2 separate regions of the Homo sapiens genome follow, and region 2 is linked to region 1. Evidence: fine-mapped expression QTL. A gene starts in region 1. The other region holds a variant in brackets. All regions are shown on one strand. Distances are from middle to middle. Region 1 holds the start of TRABD-AS1 (TRABD antisense RNA 1). Region 2 overlaps MOV10L1 (Mov10 like RNA helicase 1).

What was found. PIP is the estimated chance that this variant, and not a neighbour inherited with it, causes the effect. A credible set is the group of variants that fine-mapping cannot tell apart.
Region 2: its variant is the best candidate, but not a certain one, in a credible set for the expression of TRABD-AS1 in whole blood (TOPMed, PIP 0.64).

What each region holds. Positions count from the first base shown.
Region 1 is chr22:50,197,448-50,202,812 of GRCh38, forward strand. TRABD-AS1 (TRABD antisense RNA 1) reads right to left here and starts at 3,336. Exons shown (of 2, transcript NR_186698.1): 1 at 2,629-3,336; 2 at 1,641-1,881. TRABD (TraB domain containing) reads left to right here. Exons shown (of 10, transcript NM_001320485.2): 7 at 2-141; 8 at 376-548; 9 at 628-739; 10 at 898-2,148. The coding sequence ends at 1,072. SELENOO (selenoprotein O) reads left to right here and starts at 3,564. Exons shown (of 9, transcript NM_031454.2): 1 at 3,564-4,143. The coding sequence starts at 3,590. RefSeq lists silencers at 2,884-3,823, 3,954-4,033 and an enhancer at 4,394-4,633.
Region 2 is chr22:50,130,284-50,135,648 of GRCh38, forward strand. MOV10L1 (Mov10 like RNA helicase 1) reads left to right here. Exons shown (of 27, transcript NM_018995.3): 14 at 3,724-3,782; 15 at 4,247-4,347. Among named protein-coding and RNA genes, the nearest start is that of PANX2, 38 kb to the right of the region's middle. The variant G/C (reference allele first, on the strand shown) is at 2,043.

The DNA of each region.
Region 1 (5,365 bases):
GGCCAGCAAGGTGCCTTTCTGCAAGTTCCACCTGGGTGACCGACCCATCCCCGTCACCTTCAAGAGGGCCATCGCAGCGCTCTCCTTCTGGCAGAAGGTCAGGCTGGCTTGGGGCCTGTGCTTCCTGTCAGACCCCATCAGGTAGGGCTGCCCCCGGGACCCTGGCCGGCCTGCAGGGTGGTCTGTGGGAGGCTCCAGGCCCTCCTGTGCAGGTCCAAGCGCAGCCAATCCTCACTCAAGGCCTTCCCTGCCCTTTCCTTCCGCCACAAATCCCAAACAAACGTGCTGTGGTCCCTGCCCGGTGTCCACAGTGCCAGCCCCACCCCCCCAGCCCGTTGCCCATCCCTGCGGGGCTGCAGCCATCCCTCTCCACAGCAAGGATGACGTGGAACGCTGCAAGCAGAAGGACCTACTGGAGCAGATGATGGCCGAGATGATTGGCGAGTTCCCAGACCTGCACCGCACCATCGTCTCGGAGCGCGACGTCTACCTAACCTACATGCTGCGCCAGGCCGCGCGGCGCCTCGAGCTGCCTCGGGCCTCTGACGGTGACGGCCGCCCGCAGGCGTGGGACCCCCTGTGAGGCTGAGGCCCGAGCAGGTACTGACCCCTTGTCCTTCCCCACAGCCGAGCCCAGGAAGTGCGTCCCCTCCGTGGTCGTGGGCGTCGTGGGCATGGGCCACGTGCCTGGCATCGAGAAGAACTGGAGCACCGACCTCAACATCCAGGAGATCATGACGTGAGTGCCCGCCCCTCCCTGCAAGCCCCACCCCACAAGCCCCCAGGTGGAGGCTGAGCGCCCTGGAGGCCAACCACATGCGGCAGTGACCCAGGCATGGGGGCTGGGGTATGGGGAGCCCACCCCCAGCCAGGCCCAGCGCCCCCTCCCTCCCACAGCGTGCCCCCGCCGTCCGTCTCCGGCAGAGTGTCTCGGTTGGCCGTGAAGGCCGCCTTCTTCGGCCTGCTGGGCTACAGCCTGTACTGGATGGGCCGCCGCACCGCGAGCCTGGTCCTGTCGCTGCCCGCCGCGCAGTACTGCCTGCAGAGGGTGACCGAGGCCCGGCACAAGTAGGAGACTGCTCCCCGCCCGCTCGGGCCCCTGAGGAGCCAGTGCCCCCGCGGCACTTCTGGGTGCCAGGTGCATCCTAGCCCGCCCGAGGCCCCTGCCACCCCCCATGGGGGTCTGGGCCCGGCCTCGCCTGCCCTCCTGGGCCAGTCACCCCTCCCCCAGCCCACCCAAATAAAGGATTATTTAACTGTCTGAGCTCAGGCCTCCCGGCAGCCCCTCCCCTCCCACACTGCAGGGGCCGTTCCCCAGCTTCTGGACAAGACACCCAGCTCCGAGGGGGCAGGGGCTTATAGGAGGGGCCGAGGCGTGCGCTGCCCTCTCAGCCCTGGTGGCAGGCGGGGGACAATGGCCACTGTCCCTACCTCACTGTGCCTTCCTGTGCTCCGGCCACAGGAGCGTCGGCCCAGGGGCGGCTCCTGGGGGCTCCAGGGCAGGCGAGACTGGGAAAGGCCCAGCCCTGGAGCTCCAGCCGACCCCACCGTGCCCCTGGCATCCTGGCCCTGGCCGCCACCTCCCTGGCACCGTCTGCCTGCAGGGATTCTGTGTTTTTGGCTTTTTTAATGTCTTAAAATCTTTTACTCAGGTAATTTTAATTTCAGAGAGAAAAACTGAAGTAAATGTCAAAAAACACCAGCCTTAAATCCAAAGGGAGAGAATTCGTGTTCTTGGGTCTGTCCCGAGTGGGCTCGCGTGCAGCCAAACATCAGCTCTGGGTCCAGGCGTGGCCTCAGCTGGGAGCCTGTGTCCTGAGCCCCCGGAGCGAAGGGGTGCCTGGGGCATCTTGGCCCTCTCTGGGCAGACAATGTGTGCACCTATGTGGAAGGCCAAGGACATGGGCTGTGGCCAGGCCTGTCCCGCTCAGGCCCCCTGCCCGGCGGCCGTCTGTGTGCGGGGCCTCCCTCCTGGCTGTCCAGGACACAGCCCGTGCAGCCCCAGCCTGGACCCAGGCCATCTCTGGTTGTGTCTGTGCCGACTCGGTGTTGAATCAAATCAGGTGTGCGTCAGGAGCCGGCTGTGTCCTTCCTGCCACACTCGGGGATTCATTCCTTAGAAACTGAAATAAATTCTAATTTTGGAAACTCCTGTTTTGTGACGTGTGAACATGGGGTTCAGGTAATGAAGGATCCCTGCCTCTTCCCCCGTGCTCCAGTGCAGCGGGTACTCGTGGCCCTGCCGGGGCCCTGGGGGAAGGAACCTGCCTGGTTTCCAGCAGAAGAGACAGAGTCGGGTCCCTCCATGCTGACCTGTGGGACCCTTCTCACCCACCAGGTGGGACGCAGGTGGCCTGCTGACACTCAAGACCCTCCATACCCAGTCCCACCAGATTCCAGAGTGTGGACCAGACTGAGCCAGACTGGGGCCCCAGGGGGTCGAGGAGACAGATCAGGAGGGCCCAGGGCCTGGGGAATGGGGAGGGGTAACACCTGCCAAGGAGGATGCTGGGAACGGGCGCCCAGAGCGGCCGGGGGGAGGGGGCTGCTGAAGAGGGAACGGTTGCTGTGGGCTGCAGAGGAGGGTTGGGCACGGGGACCTCACCACATTATCCCTCATCCAGTTACCTGCCCAACGCACGCGGAGGGTCCTGAGGGCTTCACCCGCAGCCCCAAAGGGGCAGAGCTGGGGTCACGCAGAGTCTCGGAAGCCCACGCTGTGGCCCCAGGAGAAGCTTCTGGATGTAGCTCCTGTATGTGAAGGGTGGGCTCGCGCCGCTGCCGGAATAAAGGGAAACCACAGGCAGGAGGGAGGCGCGTCCAGGATCCGCGGCCACCGGCCTCTCAGACAGTCCTCTGGGGCCGGGGCCGGAGGAGATGGAAAGCGGGGGCACCACAGACTCATCTGAACCCCCGCGTTCATTCGGACACACAGACCCCAAATTCCTCCCCCAGGGGTCGGGTCCCTCAAGCCAGCCGAAGACCCCGGTGCCCGCCCAGCCCTCCGGGAGGGTCTGCGCCTGCGGCCTCGCGGGGCCTCTCCGAGCCCGGGCGCTGTTCCATGGGCGGGGCACAGATCCAAGGCCCCTTCCCTCCTAGACGGCAGGCGAGGGGCCCGAGAGGCCGGAGGCCAGGGGACAAGGTCCCCGAGAGGCGGCGCGAGGCTCCGGCGGCCCAGAACCGCGGCGGGGTCCGGGTGGGGTCCCGGCCGCCCGTGGGGCGCGGGGCTAAGCCCCGGCCCGACCCGAACGGACGCGGGCCTCGGTCCCCGCTGCCGGCGCCGGTGCAGCCGAGGAAATCCGGGGCTGCCCGAGCGGGGTCGTCGCTGGCGGTCTCGGAGGCGTTCCCATCTGTCACCCCGTTCGCATCAGCGCGCGCCCCGTGACGCCGACAGCCACCCCGGACGCCTCCGACCCTCCGGCCGGGAGATGCGGATAGACGGACGAGGCAGCCAATTAGAGCCCGGCCAGACACCGCGACCCCTCCCCCCACCCGCCCCACTCTCGCCCACTGGCGATTGGGTTGCGGGACGCGCGGGGCGGGGCTTCCGGGCGGGGCAGGCTGGCTTCCGGCGGGAGCGGGGCCGCGGATGGCCGTATACAGGGCAGCGCTCGGGGCTTCGCTCGCGGCTGCCCGACTCTTGCCCCTCGGTCGCTGTTCCCCGTCGCCGGCGCCCCGCTCTACGTTGTCGGGCGCCGCCATGGAGCCCGCGCCTCGCTGGCTGGCGGGGCTGCGCTTCGACAACCGCGCCCTGCGCGCCCTGCCCGTGGAGGCGCCGCCGCCCGGTCCCGAGGGCGCCCCGTCCGCGCCGCGGCCCGTGCCCGGGGCCTGCTTCACCCGCGTGCAGCCCACCCCGCTGCGGCAGCCGCGCCTCGTGGCGCTGTCAGAGCCCGCGCTGGCGTTGCTGGGCCTGGGCGCGCCGCCCGCGCGCGAGGCCGAGGCCGAGGCCGCGCTGTTCTTCAGCGGCAACGCGCTCCTGCCGGGCGCCGAGCCCGCCGCGCACTGCTACTGCGGCCACCAATTCGGCCAGTTCGCCGGGCAGCTGGGCGACGGCGCCGCCATGTACCTGGGCGAGGTGTGCACGGCGACCGGCGAGCGCTGGGAGCTGCAGCTCAAGGGCGCCGGGCCCACGCCCTTCTCCAGGTGGGCCGGGGCGGGCGAGGGGCGCGGGTGGGTCCTCCCCGCCGGGGCGCCCCTTCCCTCCGCCCGGCGCGGTGTTGGGGGCGTCCGGCGGCTACTGCCAAGTGGGGCCTCCCCTGCACCCGCGGGAGCGCGGTGCTGGCAGCCGCCCGCGCCCTGTGCTTATCAACCCGCCGAGGACCTTGGAGTCAGCTCCACCAGGGACGCCGCTCATGTTTACCGACGTTCGCTGGGGCTCCAAACCCAGGGGCGGGAGCCGGGATGAGAGGTTAGGCTAACCCTAACCCTAACCCCGCAGGTCCCCAGCCTTCCTCCGATCGCTCGTGGGGCGGGCCGCTTCGTCCAGCAGCCTCGCTCTGCGACTGACTTCACGGAGGCCTGGCCCTGACTTCCCTGCGGGCAGCCCTTTTTAACCCCGAAGTGAGGTGGGCATCGTTTAGATTTCTGTGGGGGGGCACACAGGTGGTCTAATAAGGCAGGATCTGGGTCCAGATGCCGCCAGGCCCACCGGGGAGCCGTGCACGCGCCACCTGCCTCCTGTGTATAGACAGCGCTTGGGTCTGTTCTGCTCTTTTCTACTAAACAATGTACTTACTCCATATTCTTTACTGCTTTTGTGAATGACTAGGAAAGTGTACATTTTATGTTCAGAGAAATGCTAAACCCGCATCTCATCCGGCCCCTCCCTGTGCTCTCATCACCTCCCCCTCCAGCACCTGAAATGCCCCTCGGTCCCTCAGCATCCCTTCCCCGGGGCTCCATCTCCCAAGCAAGCTCCTCAGACTGAGGGTCTTCCTCACTCCCCCGTCTCCAAATCCGTTCTGTTCTGTGTCTGAGGGCAACCTGGCTCTGGCTCTCCCTCCCCACCCCCAGCGACCTGCTTAGAGTTGACAGCACCGGCCGCCCACTGGAGCGTTTCTGACCCTTGGAACGTGGTGGAAATGCTGCTCAGCCTGGGGCCTGCTTGTCCTGTGAGCATTTTTTTTTTTTAATTTTTGTTTTTCTTTTTGGCGATCATCTTAAACTTTATGTTTTCATTTTTGGTGATATTTTAAAGTTAAAAAGACAATTTTTTTTATGAGAGTAATCTGTCGCTGGAAGACACTTTTTATGTTTGAAGACTTGAGTATTAACTCACTGCTTTCAGACCTGAGAGCTGCTAGAATATATTTTCTCCTAAAAATTAAGGAGTCCTTTGACCTTTACTCAGGCCCTGCCTGACATC
Region 2 (5,365 bases), 67 kb before region 1:
AAATAAATAAATTTTATATATATATGTCTTTTTATTAACAGAAGGTGCTAGTTTTAATATAGTCAAATTTATCAAATTTTTTTTAATATTAGTGCTTTTTATGTCTGTCTGAGAAATCGGCAGTATTTGGGCTACAGCCAGATTGGAATGTATTGAGAATGAATGAATGGACTACGGGGGAATGGAGAAATGTCGTTGATTCCTTTTTAAGGCATTTGCCGATGAAAGCAGGGAGGGCAGGATGGAGAGAGAGCGAGAGAAATTGGTGACCAAAGAGATACAGGAGGACCAGGAGGGGGGTACTTTTTGTTTGCTGTGCAAGATGAGAGACCCCAGCATGTGAGTGCCATGAGAAGACCCAGGAATGGGAAGGAAGGGGCAGCTGTGTTGGATGATGACGTGTGAGGGTTGGCTGGGACCACAGGGAGCAGCAGCGCTGGTAGAAGGCACACAGCCTCCATCATGGCAGCTAGAGAGACTGCAGCCGACGTCCAGGCCTGGACTCCTTGACCTGCTTTGACTCTGGAACAGAGCTGATTCTTGTAGTGTGAAGGGATATCTCGTTGTGGATTTAATTTGTATTTTTCTAATGACTAATGATGCTGAACATCTTTTCTTTTTTCTTTTTTTTGAGACGGAGTCTCGTTCTGTTACCCAGGCTGGAGTGCAGTGGCACGATCTCGGCTCACTGCAAGCTCTGCCTTCCAGGTTCACACCATTCTCCTGCCTCAGTCTCCCGAGTAGCTGGGACTACAGGTGCCCACCACCACGCCCGGCTAATTTTTTTTTTTTTTTTTTTGTATTTTTAGTGAGACGGGGTTTCACTGTGTTAGCCAGAATGGTCTCAATCTCCTGACCTTGTGATCTGCCCACCTTGGCCTCCCAAAGTGCTGGGATTACAGGTGTGGGCCACCACACCCGGCCACTGAACATCTTTTTATGTGCTTTTTTGCCATTTGTACAAAATACTTGTTGAAGTCCTTCCTCAAGTCTTTGGGCCCATTTTAAAAAATTGTTTTCTCATGATTGAGTTTGCAGAGATGTTTGTATAGTTTCAGTACAGTGCTTTATCAGATACGTGTCTGTGCAAATATTTCCTCAGACTACAGCTTGTATTTTCATTGTTTTTATAGTGCCTTTTGAAATGCAGAAATTATTAATTTTGGTGAAGTCCAGTTTATGAATGTTTTCTTTCACAGATCTTTTAATGATGCATCTCAGAAATCTGTAACTAATTTGGATCTCAACGATTTTATCCTGTTTAGAAACTTGGCAGCTTTATCCTGTACATTTAGGATTATGATCTATCTCATTAAGCTTTGCAAATTGTTTGTGGGGTATGAATGGAAATTGGAGGGTGGAATGAACATCCAGTTGTCCAAGCATTATTTGATGAAAAAACTGCCCTTTCTCCAATGAATTACTATTGTACCTTTGTGAAAAAAAAAAAAAGAAAATCAGTTGACCAAATATTTGTTGATCTGTTTCTGAAGACTCTCTGTTGTGTTCCATTGTACACTTGTCTGTCTTGACACCAACATTACAGGGTCTTATTGTCTGTCTTAGTACACTCAGGCTGCATTAGCATAGCACCATAGATGGGGTGGCTTATAAACAACAGAAATGTATTTCTCATGCTCTGGAGGTCAGGAAGCCCAAGGTCAAGGCACCAGCAGGTTCAGTGTCCTGGTGAGACTGCTTCCTGGTTCGTAGGCGGCTGTCTTTTCCCTGTGTCCTCACGCAGCAGAAGGGATGGGAGAGCTCTCTGTGCTCCCTTGTGTAAGGGCACTAATTCCATTCATGAGGCCCCACCCTCATGACCTAATCACTTGCCAAAGGCCTCAACTCCTCATACCCAGTAACATCACATTGGGGATGAAGTTTCACCATACGAAGCTGGGGGGAACACAAACCTAGTGTATGATATGTGCCTTTATGATAAGTCTCAAAATCAGGTAGTATCAAGCCTCCAACTTTGTTCCTTTTCAAGGTTGTCTGGCTGTTCCAGGTCTTTCTTCTTACATGGATTTTAGGTCATGTCA[G/C]TCTCTACAGAAAGCCTGTTGGGATTTTGATTGGGATTACATTGAACCTATGGGTCGGTTTAAGGGAGAATTGGAGAATTGAAATCTTAATAATAATAAGTCCTCCAGCCCTTGAAAAGGGTATGTCTCTCCATTTATTTGCATCTGTTTTCATTTCTTTTAGCAATATTTTATACTTTTCAGTGTATAGGTCTTATAGATCTTTTGTCAGTTATACCTATTTAAAATTTTTAAATGGCTGTTATAAACAGTAAATTTAACTTAAATTTCTAATTGCTTGTTTCTAGTATTTATAAAAAGCAATTGATTTTTGTATGTTTACCTTGTATCCTGCAAGTCTCCTAAACTGAATAGCTCCAGTAGCTTCTCCTAGAGTCTGTAGAATTTTCTACATATATAATCATTGATTCAAAGAATGACAGTTTTAGGTTGGGTGTGGTGGTTCACACCTGTAATCCCAGCACTGTGGGAGGCCAAGGCAGGCGGATCACCTGAGGTCAGGAGTTTGAGACCAGTCTAGCCCACATGGGGAAACCCCATCTCTACTAAAAATACAAATAATCAGCCGGGCGTGGTAGTGGTCACCTGTAATCCCAGCTACTTGGGAGGCTGAGGCAGGAGAATTGCTTGAACCCAGGAGGCGGAGGTTGCAGTGAGCCGAGATCACGCTACTCATTCCAGCCTGGGCGACAGAGCAAGCCTCCGTCTGAAAAAAAAAAAACCAAAGACAGTTTTACTTCTTCTTCTCTTATTTGGATGCTGTGTATTTGTTTTCCTTGCCTTCCTGCGCTGGTTGGAACTTGTGTGCCAGTGTGGAATAGAAGTGGTGGCAAGTGCTGCACTGGCTTTGTCCCTGGTCTTAGGGGCAGGGCTGTCAGTCCTGAGCGAGTTAGTACAGCGTGGGTGGTAGGTTCCGTAGTGGCCCTCTATCAGGTTGAGGAGATAGATTCTTATTTTAGTGAGTTTTTAATCAAGAATGGATATGGGGCCAAGTGTGGTGGCTTACACCTGTAATCCCAGCACTTTGAGAGGCTGAGGTGGGAGGATCACATGGGCCCAGGAATTTGAGGCTTCAGTGAGCTCTGACTGTGCCACTGCACTCCAGCCTAGGCAACAGAGCAGAGTCTCTAAAAAAAAAAAAAAAAAGAAAGAAAGAATGGGTGTGGGATTTTGTCCCATGCTTTTTTTTTTGGCTTCTTTGGTATTCTCTAGTGGTTTTTACAAAAATTTTTTTAGACAGAGTCTCACTCTGTCACCCAGGCTGGAGTGCAGTGGTGCCATCTCAGCTTACTGCAACCTCTGCCTCCCAGGTTCAAGTGATTCTCATGCCTCAGCCTCCTGAGTAGCTGGGATTACAGGCGTGCACCACCACTATGCCTGGCTAATTTTTGTATTTTTAGTAGAGGCAGGGTTTCATCATGTTGGCCAGGCTGGTCTCGAACTCCTGACCTCAGGTGATCCACCCACCTCGGCCTCCCAAAGTGCTGGGATTACACACGTGAGCCACCGCGCCCGTCCTCTCTAGTGTTTTTCTGTTCTCTATTTCATTGATTGTTGGATTGTTGCTGTGATTTTTTTATATTGACTTAAAGATTGTATCATAAAATTTTCATTACCTTATGCCAGCCTTAATATTTCTGAATGTAAGGTTAGTTATTTTATGTGGTTTTCTTTCCTGCAGGACCACAAGCAGACGGTGTCACTTTGCACTTGAACACGTCATCCACTTAGGTGTAAAAGGTATTACTTTTATAGAATGATAGTGTTACATCTTCACAGAGTATTTTTATAGGCTTCATGTAAAATTTTGTGTAAAATAGTCTCTTCAGTCATAATATTAGAAGTAAAACTTTTGTTATATTCATGTTTTTAATTTTCTATCAAGTTTTAGTGTTTTCTTACTATTTCAACTTAGTGAATAACTAATAATAGCATGCTTAAATAACCGAAAATAAATTTATCTTGCTCGCTTTTCCCTTCATAAATGTAATTTATGAATTTTTACAGATGGGCAAATAAAGGGCTTTGTTGTGAAGAATATGCAGTACTAATAATGCTATAATTTAGAAACAGTATAACAGGCAGGTTAAGAAAGGAAGGGAATAGAATATTAATTGCTTTAGGGTCAGCCATAAACAACCTCTATTAATATTTTTTTAGCTTTTTAGTTATACCCGTGCTCTTACCATTTTTTGTTTTAAAAGTGTTGTTTCCAGAAGAAATTATTTTACAGTCTCCACAAGTGACGGGAAATTGGAACCATGCACAAGACACCAAAAGCAGTGGACAGTCCACCAGCAAAAAGGTAGTGCTCAGCAATGTGGCTTTCTCTACACAGGGGATGGCTCAGCGACGTGGCTGTCTTTACATAGGGGGTGGCTCAGCGGCGTGACTGTCTCTACACAGGGGATGGCTCAGCGATGTAACTGTCTACACAGGGGGTGGGCGTTTCCTTCTCGGAGTATTAGCGCTTAGTTGACTGGAGTATTAGAGCAGTGTGGTTCACAAATAACTCAAAATTGCAGTTAAAATAAAGTGAACTAAAATATTCAAAAATAGATTTAGTGTAAAGTTTATATGCAAGGGCTAAGATGCAGGGCTAAGATGGCTACAATATATTAAATAGGGGAAGCAAAGTACAGATGTTTATATGACCTTAGAGTTGGGTTTTTTCTTTTTCTTTTTTCTTTTCTTTCTTTTTTTTTTGAGACAGAGTCTCGCTCTGTCACCCAGGCTGGAGTGCAGTGGTGCAATCTTGGCTCACTGCAACCTCTGCCTCCCAGATTCAAGTGATTCTCCTGTCTCAGTCTCCAGAGTAGCTAGGACTACAGGCATGTGCCATCACACCCAGCTAATTTTTGTATTTTTAGTAGAAACAGGGTTTCACCATATTGGTCAGGCTGGTCTCGATCTCCTGATCTTGTGATCCACCCTCCTCGGCCTCCCAAAGTGCTGGAATTACAGGCGTGAGCCACCACACCCGGCCTTAGAGTTTTATTTTTAAATTATATGGTTTATGTGTACACTTAGGTACATTTATGTGATTGTGTATGCATGGAAAATGTCTGGAAGGATACACACCCCGCAAATTGTTAACATTTGCAAACTTTGTGAATGTTGCAAAGATATTTTATAAAAACTTCTAGGCCGGTCGCAGTGGCTCACGCCTGTAATCCCAGCACTTTGGGAGGCCGAGGCGGGCAGATCATGAGATCAGGAGTTCAAGACCAGCCTGGCCAAGATGGTGAAACCCCATCTCTACTAAAAATCCAAAAATTAGCCGGGCATGATGGTGTACACCTGTAATCCCAGCTACTCAGGAG